Regions from separate parts of the Homo sapiens genome. Here region 1 is linked to region 2. The links come from fine-mapping of genetic effects on gene expression. A gene starts in region 2. The other region holds a variant in brackets. All regions are shown on one strand. Distances are between the middles of the regions. Region 1 overlaps LOC105375633 (a long non-coding RNA gene). Region 2 holds the start of NECAB1 (N-terminal EF-hand calcium binding protein 1).

The links.
Region 1: its variant is fine-mapped to the expression of NECAB1 in iPS cells (PhLiPS, PIP 0.95).

The regions. Positions count from the first base shown.
Region 1 is chr8:90,716,097-90,724,441 of GRCh38, forward strand. The region is part of intron 1 of LOC105375633 (a long non-coding RNA gene); the gene reads right to left. Among named protein-coding and RNA genes, the nearest start is that of NECAB1, 72 kb to the right of the region's middle. The variant C/T (reference allele first, on the strand shown) is at 4,662.
Region 2 is chr8:90,787,699-90,796,043 of GRCh38, forward strand. NECAB1 (N-terminal EF-hand calcium binding protein 1) reads left to right here and starts at 4,077. Exons shown (of 13, transcript NM_022351.5): 1 at 4,077-4,287. The coding sequence starts at 4,189. It overlaps LOC105375633 (a long non-coding RNA gene), which reads right to left and starts at 4,470. Exons shown (of 4, transcript XR_928389.4): 1 at 3,740-4,470.

The sequences.
Region 1 (8,345 bases), 72 kb before region 2:
TTTCCTCTTTCCATCCTCACCAACATGTTATCTTTTGGCTTTTTAATGATAGCCATTCTGACTGATGTGGGATGGTATCTCACTGTGGTTTTGATCTGCATCTCTATGATGATTAGTGATGCTGACCATTTTTTCATATGTTTATTGGACACTTGTATGTCTTCTTTGGGGGTTATTTGTTTTATTCTTGACTTAAGTTCCTTGTACATTCTGGATATGAGCCCTTTGTTAGACGCATAGTTCGCAAATATTTCCTCTCATTCTGTATGTTATCTGTTTATTCTTTTGCTGTGCAGAAGCTCTTTAGTTTAATTAGGTTCCACATGTCAAGTTTTGTTTTTGTTGCAATTGCTTTTAAAGACTTAGTCATAAATTCTTTGCCAGGCCGATGTCCAGAATAGTGTTTCCTAGGTTTTCTTCTAGGATTTTTATAGTGTGAGGTTTTATATTTTAGTCTTTAATCTTTCTTGAGTTAATTTTGATATATAGTGAGGGATAAGTGTACAGTTTCATTCTTTTGCATATGATTAGCCAATTCCCCCAGCATCATTTATTGAATAGGGAGTTTTTTCCCCATTGCTTATTTTTGTTGATTTTGTCAAAGATCAGTTAGGTGTAGGTGTGCAGCTTTATTTCTAGATTCTCTAATCTTTTCCATTAGTCCATGTGTCTATTTTTGTCCCAGTACCATGCTGTTTTGGTTACTGTAGCCTTGAAATATACTTGAAGTCAGATAATGTGATGCCTGTGGTTTTGTTCATTTTGATTAGGATTGCTTTGGCTATTTGTGCTCTTTTTTGATTCCATATGAATTTTAGAATATTTTTTCTAATTCTGTGAAAAATGACATTGGTAATTTGATAGGGATAGCATTGATTCTGTATCCTGTGGATTTACTAAATTCATTTATTAACTCCCATTGTTGTTTTGTAGATGCCTTTGGACCTTCTAAATTGAGTATCATTTTATCTTAAAATAAAGAGAGTTTTATTTCTTTCTTTTCAATTTATATATATATATTTTTTCTTGCCTTATTTCATGGTTAGTTCTTTGTTGGGAACAGGCCCCCCAAAATCTGGCCATAAACTGGCCCCAAAACTAGCCATAAAAAAAATCTCTGCAGCACTGTGACATGTTCATGATGGCCATAATGCCCACACTGGAAGGTTGTGGGTTTACCAGAATGAGGGCAAGGAACAGCTGGCCCACTCAAGGTGGAAAACCACTTGAAGGCATTCTTAAACCACAAACAATAGCATAAGCGATCTGTGCCTTAAGGACGTGCTCCTGCTGCAGTTAACTAGCCCAATCTATTCCTTTAATTCAGCCCATCCCTTTGTTTCCCATAAGGGATACTTTTAGTTAATTCAATATCTATAGAAACATGGCTAATGACTGGCTTGCTGTTAATAAATATGTGGGTAAATCTCTGTTCAAGGTTCCCAGCTCTGAAGGCTGTGAGACCCCAGATTTCCCCTTTCACACCTCTATATTTCTGTGTGTGTGTCTTTAATTCCTCTAGCGCCACTGGGTTAGGGTCTCCCTGACTGAGCTGGTCTTGGCAGTTCTTGTTGTACAGGTTAGTACAATGTTGAATATAAGTGGTAAGAATTCGGGGTAAAATGTTCAGTCTTTTACCATTAAATATACTGTTAGCTGCAAATTTTTGTAGATGCCCTTGGTCAGATTGATAAGCTTTCTTTTCATTTTAGTTTTCTGAGATTTTAAACAATCATAAATAGGTATTGAATTATGTCCAGCGATTTTTTTGGATCTAGTAAAATGACCATATAATTTTTGTTTTGTTCTGTTAATGTGGTGAATTACATTGTTTAACTTTACAACATGAGACCAATCCTGGGATAAAAAATCCTTAGTCTTGATGTGTTAAACTTTTTACATATTTCTTGATTTGATTTGCTAATATTTTATGATTCAGGGATTATTTATAAATGTGCCACTTGATTGCTAAACATTTGGAACTTCTTGTTTTTTTCTTTAGTTTTTTCAGTTTTTTATTCTGTATTTAGAAGCTCTATTATTAATCTGTATGCACATAATAAATTTTGCATTTAAAAAAATAAGTGGCCAAATAGTAAACAATTTAGGTTTTGGGTGTCATACTGTCTCTGTCACAACCCACATCTGTCTTTGTAGCTCTAAAGTAGACAAAAACAATATGTAATCAAATAAGGATGGCTGCATTCATAAAACTTCATTTAAAACAGAAACAGGTACAACAATTAACTCAAGATGGATTAAAGACAGAAATGTAAAACCTAGAACCATAAAAACCCTAGAAGAAAACTTAGGCAATACCGTTTAGGACATAGGCATGGGCAAAGACTTCATGACTAATTCACCAAAAGCAATGGCAACAAAAGCCAAAATTGACAAATGGGATCTAATTAAACTAAAGCGCTTCTGCACGGCAAAAGACACTAGCATCAGAGTGAACAGGCAAACTACAGAATGGGAGAAAATTTTTGCAATCTACCCTTCTGACAAAGGCCTAATATCCAGAATCTACAAGGAACTTAAACAAATTTACAAGAAAAAAATACACAACCCCATCAAAAAAGTGGGCAAAGGATATGAACAGACACTTCTCAAAAGAAGACATTTATGTGGCCAACAAACATATGAAAAAAAGCTCATCATAACTGGTCATTAGAAAAATGCAAATTAAACCACAGTGAGATACCATCTCATGCCAGTTAGAATGGCAATCAATTGAAAAGTCTGGAAACAACAGATGCTGGAGAGGATGTGGAGAACTAGGAACACTTTTACACTGTTGGTGGGAGTGTAAATTACTTCAGCCATTGTGGAAGACAGTGTGGTGATTCCTCAAGGATCCAGAACTAGAAATACCATTCGATCCAGGAGTCCCATTACTGGGTATATACCCAGGGATTATAAATCATTCTACTATAAAGACACATGCATACATATGTTTATTGCAGCACTATTTACAATAGCAAAGACTTGGAACCCACCCAAATGCCCATCAATGATAGACTGGATAAAGAAAATGTGGCACGTATACACCATGGAATACTATACAGCCATAAAAAAGAATGCGTTCATATCCTTTGCAGGGACATGGATGAAACTAGAAACCATCATTCTCAGCAAACTAACACAGGAACACAAAACCAAACACCGCATGTTCTCCTCATAAGTGAGAGTTGAACAATGAGAACACATGGACACAGGAAGGGGAACATCACACACCAGGGCCTGTCAGGGTGTGGGGGGAAAGGGGAGGGAGAGCATTAAGACAAACACCTAATGCATGTGGGACTTAAAACCTAGATGACAGGTTGATGAGTGCAGCAAACCACCATGGCACATGTATACCTATGTAAGAAACCTGCACGTTCTGCACATGTATCCCAGAACTTAAAGTAAAATATAAAAAATGAAAGAAACAGGTAGCAGGCCAGATTTGGTTCACAGACTGTTATTTGCTCATTCGTGAAACAGAATTGATATGTCTTTTAATGAATAAACTTTTTGTCATTATGTAATGGTGATGTCTCTGGTGGTACTCTTTTCTTGACATCTACATTGCCTTATTAATATAAATACTTCTTTCTCATTCTTACTATTTTCATATTTTTTCTTTTAATATATTTATGTATTTACATTTAATGCATTTCTTTCTAAATAGCATACAGTTGGGCATTGCTTTTTTTCCACTCTAATACTCTCTGTTTTTTAATTGGAGTATCTAGTTCATTGCCTTTTATGTGATTATCAGTATGGTTGGGTTTAAAACAATCATTTTGCTTCTTGTTTCCTATTTGTTCTATCTTTTCTTGAGACTCCACTATTTCCTTCTACCTTCTTTTTGACTAGTCAATTTTTTTATATTTCATTTTACCTCCTCTTTTAAATTTTTATCTGTAACTCTTTTATTTTTAGTGATTTCTTTAGTTATTTTAATATGTATCCTTAACTTATCACAGTCTATTTTAAATTAATATTACAGCACTTCCTTATAAGGTAAGAATCTTCCAAACTATACTATGATTTATACACTTGTACTTTGTGCTATTATTGTCATCCATTTGACTTTTACAGATAATTTAAACCACACGATATATTGTTATTACTTGTGATTTAAACAATCTGTGTTTGTGTCTGAAATGTCACTATCTGGATGATCTGAGCATCTGTTATATTGTCTGTTGTTTTTCTTGGTTTCCATCCCGTAGTTTTGTCTCCCTGTGTGCCTGATCTTTTAAATTTCATGCCAGTTGTTGGTATTTGAAAAATTATAGAGGTAATTTGAAGTCTAAAGTAAACTTCATCTCAAATAATATTTGCATTTGTTTCTGGCAGATTGTTGGAACAAAAGCAATACCAGCTTACCTTAATCCACTCAGGAACAGAGGTGATTCAAAACTGAATGTCAGTCCTTGTGAGGGCTGGACTACATCAGTTTACCCTCAGTCCTTAGGTGGAGGTCTCGTCCTAAAATTTGGAGATTTGTAGGGCCCTCCCTCTCCTTGGAAGCCTCTACATTCTAGTTTGCACCCTCCTAAGCTCACAGTGCTGTTGAAAGCTCAGTTTAGCTTCCCAGCCTCTGAAACTTCTCTTGTAGAATTAGCTACTGTCTCTGCAGAAAAGTAGTCCAAATATCAGGCTTGCCT[C/T]TCTGGGTTTTCTTCTCTGTGCTTTTGTTTGGTATTCATTTCTTCCTTTGTAGCTCACCAATATTCTCATATTTTTAAAAACATTGTTTATCAAACTTTTCTAGTTGTTCTTGGCAGTAGAATTGGTTCAGATCAACCAGTTGACCAAGCTGAATACATTTTTTCATAATTCCTAAATTTGTTTATGTATCTCCCCAGGATTATATTTATAATTAATTTTATATCTGGCTGGGCTTTTAGTAATATTAGTTATGAAAAACTTTTTTTATTGTGAATTGTGTTACATTTAGAAAAACTCATACAAAATCTAGACACAACTAATTTTTGTAAAGTGAATATTCAATGTAACTACCACAAAGGTCAAGACTTTTAATTTCAAGCAAAAATTATCTGACTTTAGGAAGTTTATAGATACTCTCCAACAATGATGGTCGTAACACAGTGGAATATAGCAACCTTAATTACAATGATAGGCACATAGAAACTAAAGATTCCAAGGCTACTTACAAAGAAATGATAACTTTATCTCAATAAATTTTATTAATTCCAAGTAGAAGGTATATTTCTTAGAGTGGGAGCAAAATAAGAATATTCAGAAACCAGTTCACTGACCAAGGCTTAAAATAAACGCACATTGTGTATAATTCAAAGATGTGGGAAATTGATTATGTTGTTCACAACACTTTTCTCACCAGGATTAGGATATAAAGGATTGAATATCACAATTTGGAGCATTTCAATTTGTGAATAGTAATTAAATTTATTTATTAATTACATACACTTTGAAAGTTAATGTTTCTTACAAATCACATAAGTATAGAAAGGATAAATTGATGAGACTATCTGGTACAAAAGAAAATAGTGGTAGAAAATAAAACAAGCTAAGGTTAGTATACCAAAATCTTTATCATAAGTTTATGTAGTATTTTTAGAGGTGAGCTACACATTGGACTCTGAATTTCTTTTAGTGACAAAGCAAAGAGGGAAAAACAATCAGTTTCAAGATTCACAGTACTACAAAAGATTGTTTGAAGATTCACAAACAAACCAATTGTTCAGGAGATGCACAGCTGTTCCTGGTACTGGTATCTGATAAAAATTTCTGCTAGGAGCCCTTATCCTGAAGCTACTTAGATGAATATACAAACTAGAATGGACTGATTTATTTTTAACCAAACGACAAGACACATTAGATGTGGTATAGAAAATAAGTTGCTAAAATGGACTGGACAATCACATGAATATGAGTAAACTAGTTGTGAATATGAACAAGAAAGATACTAAAGACATGTCCAACCAATAGAGAGTTAAATCAGAGGAGAATTTATACCTTATCTAGAGGTCTGAGATAAATGTTTTCCTCTGCCACTTCCCTACAAACAGCTGCTCTACTAAAGGGTGTTTGATTTCAGTGGACTATTTTAAAGTAGAAACAAGGAGAATCAATGTGAAAAGGGTGTACTATGGTTCTGAAGAGTTATGACTTTCCAAAATTCGTCTCAAATTAAGGTGTAAACAAAACATAAAGTCACCTCTGGGACCCAGTAAGTGCTCAATGAGGAAATTCTAGGACTAAAAATGCATTCTATTACATTAAAAATTACTGGCTGGGCTTAACAGCAGGGTACAGGAGAAAGAGTCCATCAACTACTAGAAATTATCCAATCAGAAGAATAAAGAGAGAAAGATTGAGAAAATATCAGCATTGCCTCAGAGACATGTGGGAAAATATCTAAAGTTCTATTATACGTAAAATAGTTCTAGAATTAAAAGAGGGAAATGCTAGAGCATAAAGGTTATTTGACAAAATAATGCCCAAGTTAGTTCTGCTTCTCTTTAGGATCTAGAAAGTCACAAAAGAACATGAACCCCATTGTAACAATAAGTAAAACTGGATAATCTACAAAATCATAACTTTTCTTGCTTACTACCAAGCATGATTCATACTATTACTGAATCAATATAACCGAAATTTTGTGGGGTACATTGAAGCAACATTTGTGAAAGGGGTAAAATCATCCCCATTCCTGTAGAAGGGATCTTTGCCATAGAAACTCTGACACTAGAATTTCTTCAGGCACAGTAGCTGACCATAGGGCTAACTGTTGTCCTATCAGGGTAGTTGAGAAATAGCAGATTAACTTTATTACAGCTCAGTCTCCCCTGTTTTGACCTTCAGGAGTTGGGAAATTGGGCATATCTTTGTTATTAAGTACATCAAGAAAATTAAATAATTCTTTGGGTCCAGTTGTAATAACAATTAAAGCCAATATTTATTAAGCGCTTACAATGTACTAGGCACTGTTTTAAGTTCTTTTAGTTGTTATTATACTCAATCCTCCTAACAAATCCATTAGGTAGTTACAATTAATCATTCCTCTTCACATATAAAGAAACTCAGCCCCTGAGAGGATGGATGAGGATCTTTCCCAAGGTCACAGCGTTAGTAAATGATGATGCTGGTATTAGAACTTGGGAGCACTTTCTCCTGAATTGACATTATTAATTAATCTCTATGTTATGCTCCCTTCCATCGGGGACAGAAGGTGTATTAGTCTAAAGCAATGGCTTACTAGATCACAGTTTAGAAGCTACAAAAAGTAAGTAAGAGGTAGGAAAAAGATATTTGTCTTAATCATCTTTAGTGACTCACCCTACTTTAATGGTTTCAATATGCTAACATATCTCCTTTCCAATTTTGATTTTAAAAAGCACTATAGACATATTTAACTTTACTGAGCATCTGTGTTTAGTTATACCTTACTGTTCCTACCCACTAATCACATGAATTGTTAAAATATTAGTCATTCTTTATGATAGTTTATAAAAATAAAAGTTTTTATTTTAAAAATTCTATTATAAGAGTTTTCATCAAGAAAAATATATTATTAACCTAAAAGGCTCAGAAAATTGGCATAACTATCATCATTGTCATTTCAGTAGTTTAAAAAAATCATACCCTATTCAGATAAATACTGCTTTATTCTTTGATGTCTTTTGATAGAAAATAAACTATGACATGAATAAAAACTAAAATAGAGACCTCAGCCTTACTTTAAGGGACAAAAACTCAAATAACTAGGGCCTCATTTCTCCTTTCTCTTTTTTTCTCTATGGAGTTCTTCCAATTTTCTGCCTAAACAGACTCTGCCCCCATGTGTTGTATATCCTTAATACTGGCATTGGGTTCTCTTACAGGGCTGCAAAAGTACTCAAGTCCACTGAGTAGTCTGGTGGGTTGTTCAGCCAATTTGGCATTAACATCTGCCCAGCTACTAGGCTTGTCTGTATAAAATAAGGCTAAGTCAGTAGTTACAGATGGTCCACTAAAGCTGCTCACTCACCTTTGAGATACATGAGAGCTCCCTTCAATCAGAATTGAAATCAAAGAATATGATGATTAGAAAGGAGTTAAAATCCAGAGAAGGAAACTGGGATCACTGTTCTGTAAGATGTTTCTGAGCCCCTCAATCAAAGGAAGAGTCCTTCTGGTTGTTATCATAGCAAATACAAGAGGAAAAAAATAATTGGCATTCTAGTATAATAATATTATTCAGGTAGAGGAAATATTTAAAAATAATTCATTGAATTATGAAGCAGACATATTGTCTTTGCAATTAGAAATGTTTAACTCTCAGGAATTAACACTGTAGATATGGTAATGTGGTGTCTTTAACATTTTTT
Region 2 (8,345 bases):
GCACATCCCTTGATTCAGGTTTAAACACACAAGTGAAGTGTCCTATCAGCTGAGCCTAGCTCTCAGCCTGTGCTCCAGCTACCAGAGAAGAGGGAGAGGATCTCCTTTCTTTCCTTCAGAAGGGGCGAGTTCTGCCCCCAGTCAGGAAACACACCATGGGGATAGGCACTTAAAGCGGAAGGGGATTTGGATCCTAAGCTGCCAAGGCAACAAAAATGTCCACTAACCTGACTGAAAGGATTCTGAGTCATCACTCAAAAGGGAAGGATAACCTTCCCTAGAATTTAAGATATAAATAAGATAGATTCCCAGCTGTCTGAAATGGTTTAGATAATAGTTCTTCTACAAGGCAGAGATGGATTGAAATACAATATATTCCCACACAGCTATCATCTCCTGAAATGCTAGAAATATCTTCACGTCAAAGTCTTATCATAGGAAGCCTGAGAGCTGGAATCTGGAATTACATTTCTATTTTTTTTAGGCCCTTGCTACAAAGAAGTTGCATTTCCTCCCTCAAGTCGGTTGTCTGCTGTTTGTGACTGATACTATGCACAGCAGTGAGGCATGTGTGTTTCACGAAAATGTGTGAAAACTGCTTTCAAAAATGCATGCCATCTAGATAAAAAGAAAACTATAAAAATATGTTTGGTTGCCACTTCGTAGAGCCTATTGAATTTGTCTGTGAATGTGAATCTAATTGCCATTTTTTCTACTACAGCCTCTGTGAACATTACATTTCCATTAAAAAGAGAAGTCAGTTACAGCAGAATGTATTCCTGTGTTCACATAGGAATCATAAAAATAAATAATGATCGGTTGATTGCTTAATAATTTATGTTTCTCCTTGATAGACCATTAGAGGAAATAAGCAAATCCACAGGTACAGAAAATGTCATTCATTGTCAGTAAAGTGTTACAAACAGCTTCCTGTAACTGAAGTGTTTGTAACTAAAGTGTTACAAACAGCTTCCTGGTTTTGAATGATGACTGCTGATTATTCTCCTGTTCTTCATTTATAATCAGAGAAAGTCTCCTTTATTAACTATTCTTGTTACCATGGGATTGGCATAAAAATATTATCACTTGTGTGGTTGAATTTGAGGGCTGAGGGACCCGCACAACTTGGGTTAGAGGGGTCAGACTTAAACTGCACTTGTTGCAGAAAAATCTATTCCATTCTTCATCCAATGGCAGGAATAAACAACATGTTATTTTGATAAATTCAGTAACTTGATGTTAATGGTTGACAGCCCCCCTCCTTCTCGTGGTTTTTCTCCTTCAGTGATTTGAATGACCTGTGTCTATCTGATGGGTTGACCAGTATGTTTTTTTTTTAAATGATTTTGTATCTATTTTGATGAACAGTTGTCAAAGAGAAGGGTCTATTCTCACTGTTCAGGTAAGGAAATTTGCAGTTAATTAGGAAAATGCACATAAAGATGTCAGATGAATATTCCTAAAGCACAGCTCCAATCAATATCTCACCCCTGATTAAGTTTAATGTCTCTAACTCTCTACCTAATTAAGTCCAGAGTTCTATCCCCGGGCTTCACAGATTTTCATCCTATAGCCTCTGCCTATTTTCTGAGATTTTATTCTACTTTTTTCCTGTACTGTATGTACAGCACAGTTAAGTTTGGTGATTCTTAATCCTTGCTGCACATCAGAATCACATGGAAATCTTCAAACAAACAAACATTAATCCACTGGGCCCACCGCATACTAATTGAAAGTGAATTTGAGGATGAAGCACAGGCATCAGTTTGGTTTGTGTGTGTGTGTGTTTGTGCAGGGAGGGTTAGCTCCTTATTTTGGTTATCTATTGTTACAAATCCAACCACCTCAACACTTATTTGTATGAAACGGTATACATTTTATTATGTTCCCAATTCTGTGGTCCAACTGTTCTGACACAGCACAGCACTGGTAGTGTGCCTTTACTCCATGATGCCTGGGGTTTTGGCTGGGACAACTCACATGGCTAGGGATGTCTGCAAGAGCTGGGAGCTGGAGTCATTTGCAGGCTTCCTCATTGACATTTCTGCTGCTGAGGCTGGGATAATGCAAAGGCTCTGCTTAGCTATACCTGTAAGCCAGGTGTCTACACTTGCCTTTCCATATACCTTGGGCTTCCTCAAAGCATGGTGGCTTAAGGTAGAAAAACTTCCTATACGGAAGTTCAAGAATCCAGGAGCAAATCCACTGTAAAAAGTGGAATTGCAAAGGCTTTTATGCCCCTACCCTCGGAAAGCACATAGCAACACTTCTGTTCCATTTCATTCATTGTAGCAGTCACAATCTTTCAGATTTAAGGGGAGGGGACCCACTTCTCTATAGGAAGAATGTCAATGAATTTGTGGGCACATTTTAAAGTTACCACACACCCCAGGTGATTCCAATGTACAGGCAGCGTTGAGAACAACTGGATTCATTTTTTTTTTTTGTAAGCACCCATCTACAAAGGAGCAGTGGGACTTGGGTGAAGTGAACAAGACACCTAGGGTGCAAAATTTAAGAAAATCATTCTCAGGATCATGCAAGCACAGGATAGAGATTGAGAGCAAGTGCCTCCTTACATTCTGTGCTCAAGTGGCCCCACTTGCCACACCCTAGTCCTGAGCCTACTACATAGCAACTGTGTATGAATCATTAGGGTGAGGGGGACTTGGATTTCTGGACTAGACAGTACTTTAGTATTGGGATTTGGAAAGCCCAGGTAGGATCTGGGATTCTGTATGTTTATAGGAATCCCCAGTGGACTACTTCCAGCTTCCACGTGCTTTCCTGGTGCCATGCTTTGCTTACGCTGTTCCTTCTGCCTGGAAGTGTTTTCCTTCTATTTCTATCAAGCATGGAGTATCCACTGATTTTTAAGGTCCATTTCATATACCGCTTCTTTCATCAAGCTTTTATTGGTCCCCCCAGCCAGAGTGTAACCTGTCTCTCCTGAGAAACCCCTAGCATGTTTTACATGCCTTTAAGACACTCACATGTTGATCAGCATTTTGGTTGTGTGTGGGCCTGTCTTATAGGAAGAATATGTTTACTTTTCTCCAAAGGCCACAAAATGGAGATCTGGATCCTCCTCACCCGTTCTCACTGGTAGAGGCAGAGTCTTGTTTAGACAAGGTTCCCTCTTTTTTGCCTTATCTCGCTCCCAGATAGCTCAAGTTTGTAACCAACACATACACATTTTAGATGCCCAATAAACTGGATCTCTCTCCTGATGAAAGGTGTGGTCAGTTTCCTATTTTTACAGCCTTCGCAGAAGCCGTCAAATATTGAATAATTACCCTGGTTTAAATGCTTAAACACAGATAAGGACTTCGTCTTGTGACTTTGGGAAACTTCATATTTGAACATTACCTAACAATCCTTGCCCCATAGCAAACGTTTCGAAGCCTACTCTAGGCAGAGTTCATAGCACCGCCTTTGTCAGCAGCACTGCCATAGGTAAGCCTCAGAACCCTCTGGGGTGAGACCGGTGTAACCATTTTACTGATGAGGAAAAGTGAGGCTTACAGGTTAAGTCCTTCGAGCGCAAGATAACACCGAATGGCTTAATCCCTACACCAAACCAGCTGCTCCTCGATTGCTGGTATTCGTGAACCCTGCCCCCGCCTTTGGGGAAGGTCGGGCAGACAGGCCACTGGGACCAAAAGCAGAGTAGGTAGAACCTCTCTGAGTTCCTCCCTATTTATGGCATCCACTCAGGTGAGGCTGGGGGCGTCCTTACCTTGCGCTTTGGCTGCTCAGGACAAACGCCCTGCCATTCGTCCCTTCTCTCTGTCCGGACGCCCTCCTCCATCCCTGCACTTGGGGCCGTCGTGGGGCTGGTAGGGGTCCCCAGGCTATCTCCAGCCGTGGCCGATGGCCGTGCCGGGGGCAGAGCCCGCTCCCCTCCGCGCGTTGCTACGTGCGGGGATGACATGGATCCAGACGCCGTCAACTACGGGAAGGAGGAGGCGAGAGTTGGAGCGCGTGGGAGCGCAGAGGCCGGAGGAGGGAGGGGGGGACACCGAGCGCGGAGAGCGCGGAGAGCGCGGAGGGAGGCGCGCGCGGGAGCGAACACCCTCCCGGATCCAGAGCCCGGCGGCGGCGAAGCAGCAGCTGCGGCCGCGCCCTTGCCAGAGCCGGTGCGTCCGCCTAGCCCCGCTCCGCCTGAGGCCGTCAGGGCTCCCGAGGATGGAAGATTCCCAGGAGACATCGCCGTCCTCCAACAACTCCTCGGAGGAGCTCAGCTCTGCTCTGCACCTGTCCAAGGGCATGTCGATCTTCCTCGACGTAAGTACAGATGGTGGGAGCTGGGCGGTTGCTTCCCAGCACCTTTCTTTTCCCCGAAAGGAAGGGGTTCGGCTCAGGTGCTGACCAGCCAATGCTTTGTCCCCAGAACACAGGCGAGAACTACCGATGCAAATGCAGGAGGAACGACTGTCCCTTAACTTGCAGCTAGGGCTGTCCCAGACCTGCAGCTTGTGGCTTAACACCCTTAAGAAAACTGCAAAAGTTAGATTTTCCAACAGGCTGGGTTTCGTAGAGACACTATTGCAAATACAACAGACAACATTTGAGTGCATAGGACATTTTAAAGAGGCACAAGGTGTGGGGGGTGAGGTGGGGACAGTGTCCCAACTCATCTCTCTAACGCGCCCTATTCGCAGCCTTCACACTCGTGGATGCTCTCAAGCAACCCAGCCAGGGAAGCAGCAGCGATTGAGATGCCCTCGTTATCCTCCCCCAGACCCCCTCGGAAAACAATTACTTTGAGCATATTTGTTTTTCTTTTTACAGCGGTGGGAAATATCATTTTCATAATGATTCTTTTTGTCACTGCCACCTCTTCTATTTTCCCTTTTTCTTCCCTGATATTCTCCTTCTCTCCAAGTTCTAATTACTACTGTCACCTCCATGAATTCTAGCTTTTGACTATTTTCCCTTTGGTCCAATTTCTCACTTCGGTATCGACTGCCTGCCTTCATTACTCTGATCTGATTACATCCTTTCTTTTCCTTCTGTGCTGTTTCTTTTTCCCGTATGGTGTGGTTTCTATCTTTACAGCACTTTTATTTCTTATTTATTTCTCAATTTTGTTTTCCTCTCCTGCCTGCTGTTTCTGTTTTCTCTATTTTTCCGTCTGTTGCCTATCTCTTCTCTCTGCTTTGGGGTTTCTCTCAGCTGCTTGCCGGGCTCCAGGCTCTCCCAGCCCCTCAGTTGTCACATTCATGCTGTTGCCGGAGGTCGTGTCTATCTCAGTGGGGACAATTCTGTCTGCTTCTTGTTTAGGCATGATAGAAAATGTCAAAGGACATGGAGGAGTGCTACGTGCTCTGTCCTTTACCCTTCTCTGAGTTATCTTTTCTTATTAAAGTCAAAATGAGTGGGAGATGGGCCAGAAGCCAGATACATTTGTTTGTGGAGAGATGAAAATATGAGGAAATCAATTAGTATCATAATGGTGAGGCAGAGATAAAGAGGATAGGAGGATGTGAGGCGCTCTCCCAAGTTTATTTTGAATGGATTGGCTAGAATTCTTTTTAATTCTAGGGAAAGAAACTCCTATCAATAATTCAAACTGTTGTAAGGCAAATGATAGAAGTGAGGTTCAACTGTGTGTACTGGCAGCCTTCACCCTTTATCACCTGGTGGCTCCAATTGGTGATCCAGGCATTCTGGGCTGGTCATCTCCTTCCCACCAAATCTCAGGTGTGGTCATTCCTATTCAGCCACCCAATCAGGTGGTTAAGTACCTTATCCTTCATGAGCATTTATCTCTGCCTGGCTTGGGTCAGTCAGATGGTATTATTGGTGCTCATGGCTTAACGGGCTGATCTTATTCAAGTTTTGCTGTTCAGGGCCATAAAGCACTTGAGGAGGTAAGCTGAGAAAAGAGAAGGGCACCACAACATGCCTGAAAAGTCAGGGCCCCTGGAAATCATGTCAGTTATGAGGCTGACAATTAAGGGGCCATGGAGTTGATTCAAAGGGGACAAGTGGGGCCTCCATTCATTCTGACCTGATCTTCACTCTGTCCCCCATTGAGATCAAGTGCTTCCCTGTGCTTTTTAAAAAGCACTTAACAAACCCCGGTGATAGTGTGGAGATGAATGGATTAAAACTACACAAATGGAAAGTCATCCTCCTGACTCATACACCAGCCATTGCTTAAGTGTTCAACTGCAATGTTTTCGAAGAGAAAATTAAAATTTCATTTTTTATTATGTATGCATGATTGTTTCCAAGTCTGTAAACAAATAGCATCAGGTCCCTGTACTAAAGGAACTTGTAGTCTGTGAATAGGGTGGTCTTGCCTTTTATATTTCAGAGATTTAAAAATAAAAATAGGAAACTGATTCCCTATGAGAGGTGTTGACATGCTTGTTTGTCGGTAAAATGCTAGAGTCTACAAAAAAAACCTGCCATTGGATTTTGTGTCAAATGGAAAAGATTTTGTTTACACTTTTCTTTGAGTTATTTTGTGAAAAATCTAACACTGGTGAAATATGTGATATGAAAAATGATTTGTTACTTAGGGATTTGTGAATTATTCATTTCTGGATCATACCACTTTTAGCAAAATAAAATATAAAATATACATGCATCACTTTATTTATTTGATTTAATATATTCTATGGCACTAGCAAGAAAGATTACTTTTAAAATTATCTTCATATTATAATACATAGGTGATAGATATTACCTGTTCCAAACTGGAACAGGTAATTTTCTGTGTGTCTTCTGTATCAAACAGACAATTTCCAAATTTGAGGAAAACTTTGATTTGCAGTGCTTTTTATTGCAATGTCACTGGAATAATCAATCATTTAAGAAATGATGTAAACTGCTACTGAGAACACTATTAATGACATGATACATGACCAGCTGGTTGGAAACTAGAGACAGATTTTAACAAGAAAATCAGAGATAGATTTGCCACAACTGTTGGCTTTTCCTTCAGTATCCTCTCCAAATCAGCAATAGTAATCACTATGATACTTCCTTAGGCTGTTGTGAGTATGAAATAAGGGAAAATGGAAACAAAGCAAAAAGTATTGCATAAATTTGAAGTATTATGGTTATTTCAGTGCTGCACACTGAGTGTATTAAATAACAGTAACAGTAGCTAAATCCACAAACTGATGCAGGGACTATTTCTTCATGAATCTAATTTATAGAATTGTCTTGCTAGAATATGACAGAATTAAGTATCGGTTCATCATAAATACTCTTGAATACTGATGGGAGGCTTAGAAAACCTAGCACTGGTGCCAAGGTATGCCAGTGCATTGAGGCTGGAGCAAGCATTTGCATATGGCATGCCTGCCAGCCACAGGAGAGGGACTCAACTGGGTCCTGGCAACACATAGGACCACAGGGATTACTATTGCTTTTCCTTTTACACCAATGGACTATCATTTCCCCAGTTGCTGCAATCCAGTTAACAGAAGAGGAACTCTAGTTTGGAATACTAGTCTATGTAGCATGTGTCTCCTCTTTTGAGTCATTACATTAATCAACTCCGCTACTGTGAAAAGGGAGAAAAACAAACCTTCAACTCATCCCCAAAAGCAAGAGAAATTCCCAAACGAAATTAGTAGCAACTTCATCCACCCAATGCCACTTTCCTTTCCCATCAGTTTTCCTTTGATTTTTAACTGGAAGGGAAGTGACTGTTCCCCACTTCACTGCTAAAGAGGGAAAGAGGCTGGAAAGTTGTGAGGGGGATGAATGACTTTACTGCTTGTCTTCCCTTCCTTCCTTCGTCTAAGCATGCACACTCATGTACACTCTGAATGCAAGATACAGAGCATAGATGGTCAGGAACTTGGTGAAAACAAGAAATAGTTTCTTTTCACAAGGACACTTAATTCTGAAGCCCCATATATGCTCATTTGTATGATGTGTGAGATGCACAGAGGAATGTCGAAGCCGAATGAGTCTTCCAGATGCAATGGTTCTGTGACTGAACTCTGTTATAGCCACACACCTCCCATCTCACCTCATCTCTCTCACACACACACACACACACACACACACACACACTTGCTCATTTGAGTGAGATTGTCCAGTTCAGAGGATGGCAGTTAACCCCATCATTGTCTACCCTCATTGGCAAGGCAAATGTCACTCTTGTAGTTATAGGAAACAGCAGAAATTAGGAAAAAAAAATTTAATGCATGCTGGGCTTAATACCTAGGTGATGGATTGATAGGTGCAGCAAACCACCATAGCACACGTTTACCTATGTAACAACCCTGCACATCCTGTACATGTACCCCGGAACTTAAAAAATTTTTAAAAAAGTATTTAAAAATACACTTAGTCTTACTGTTATCATACATTAA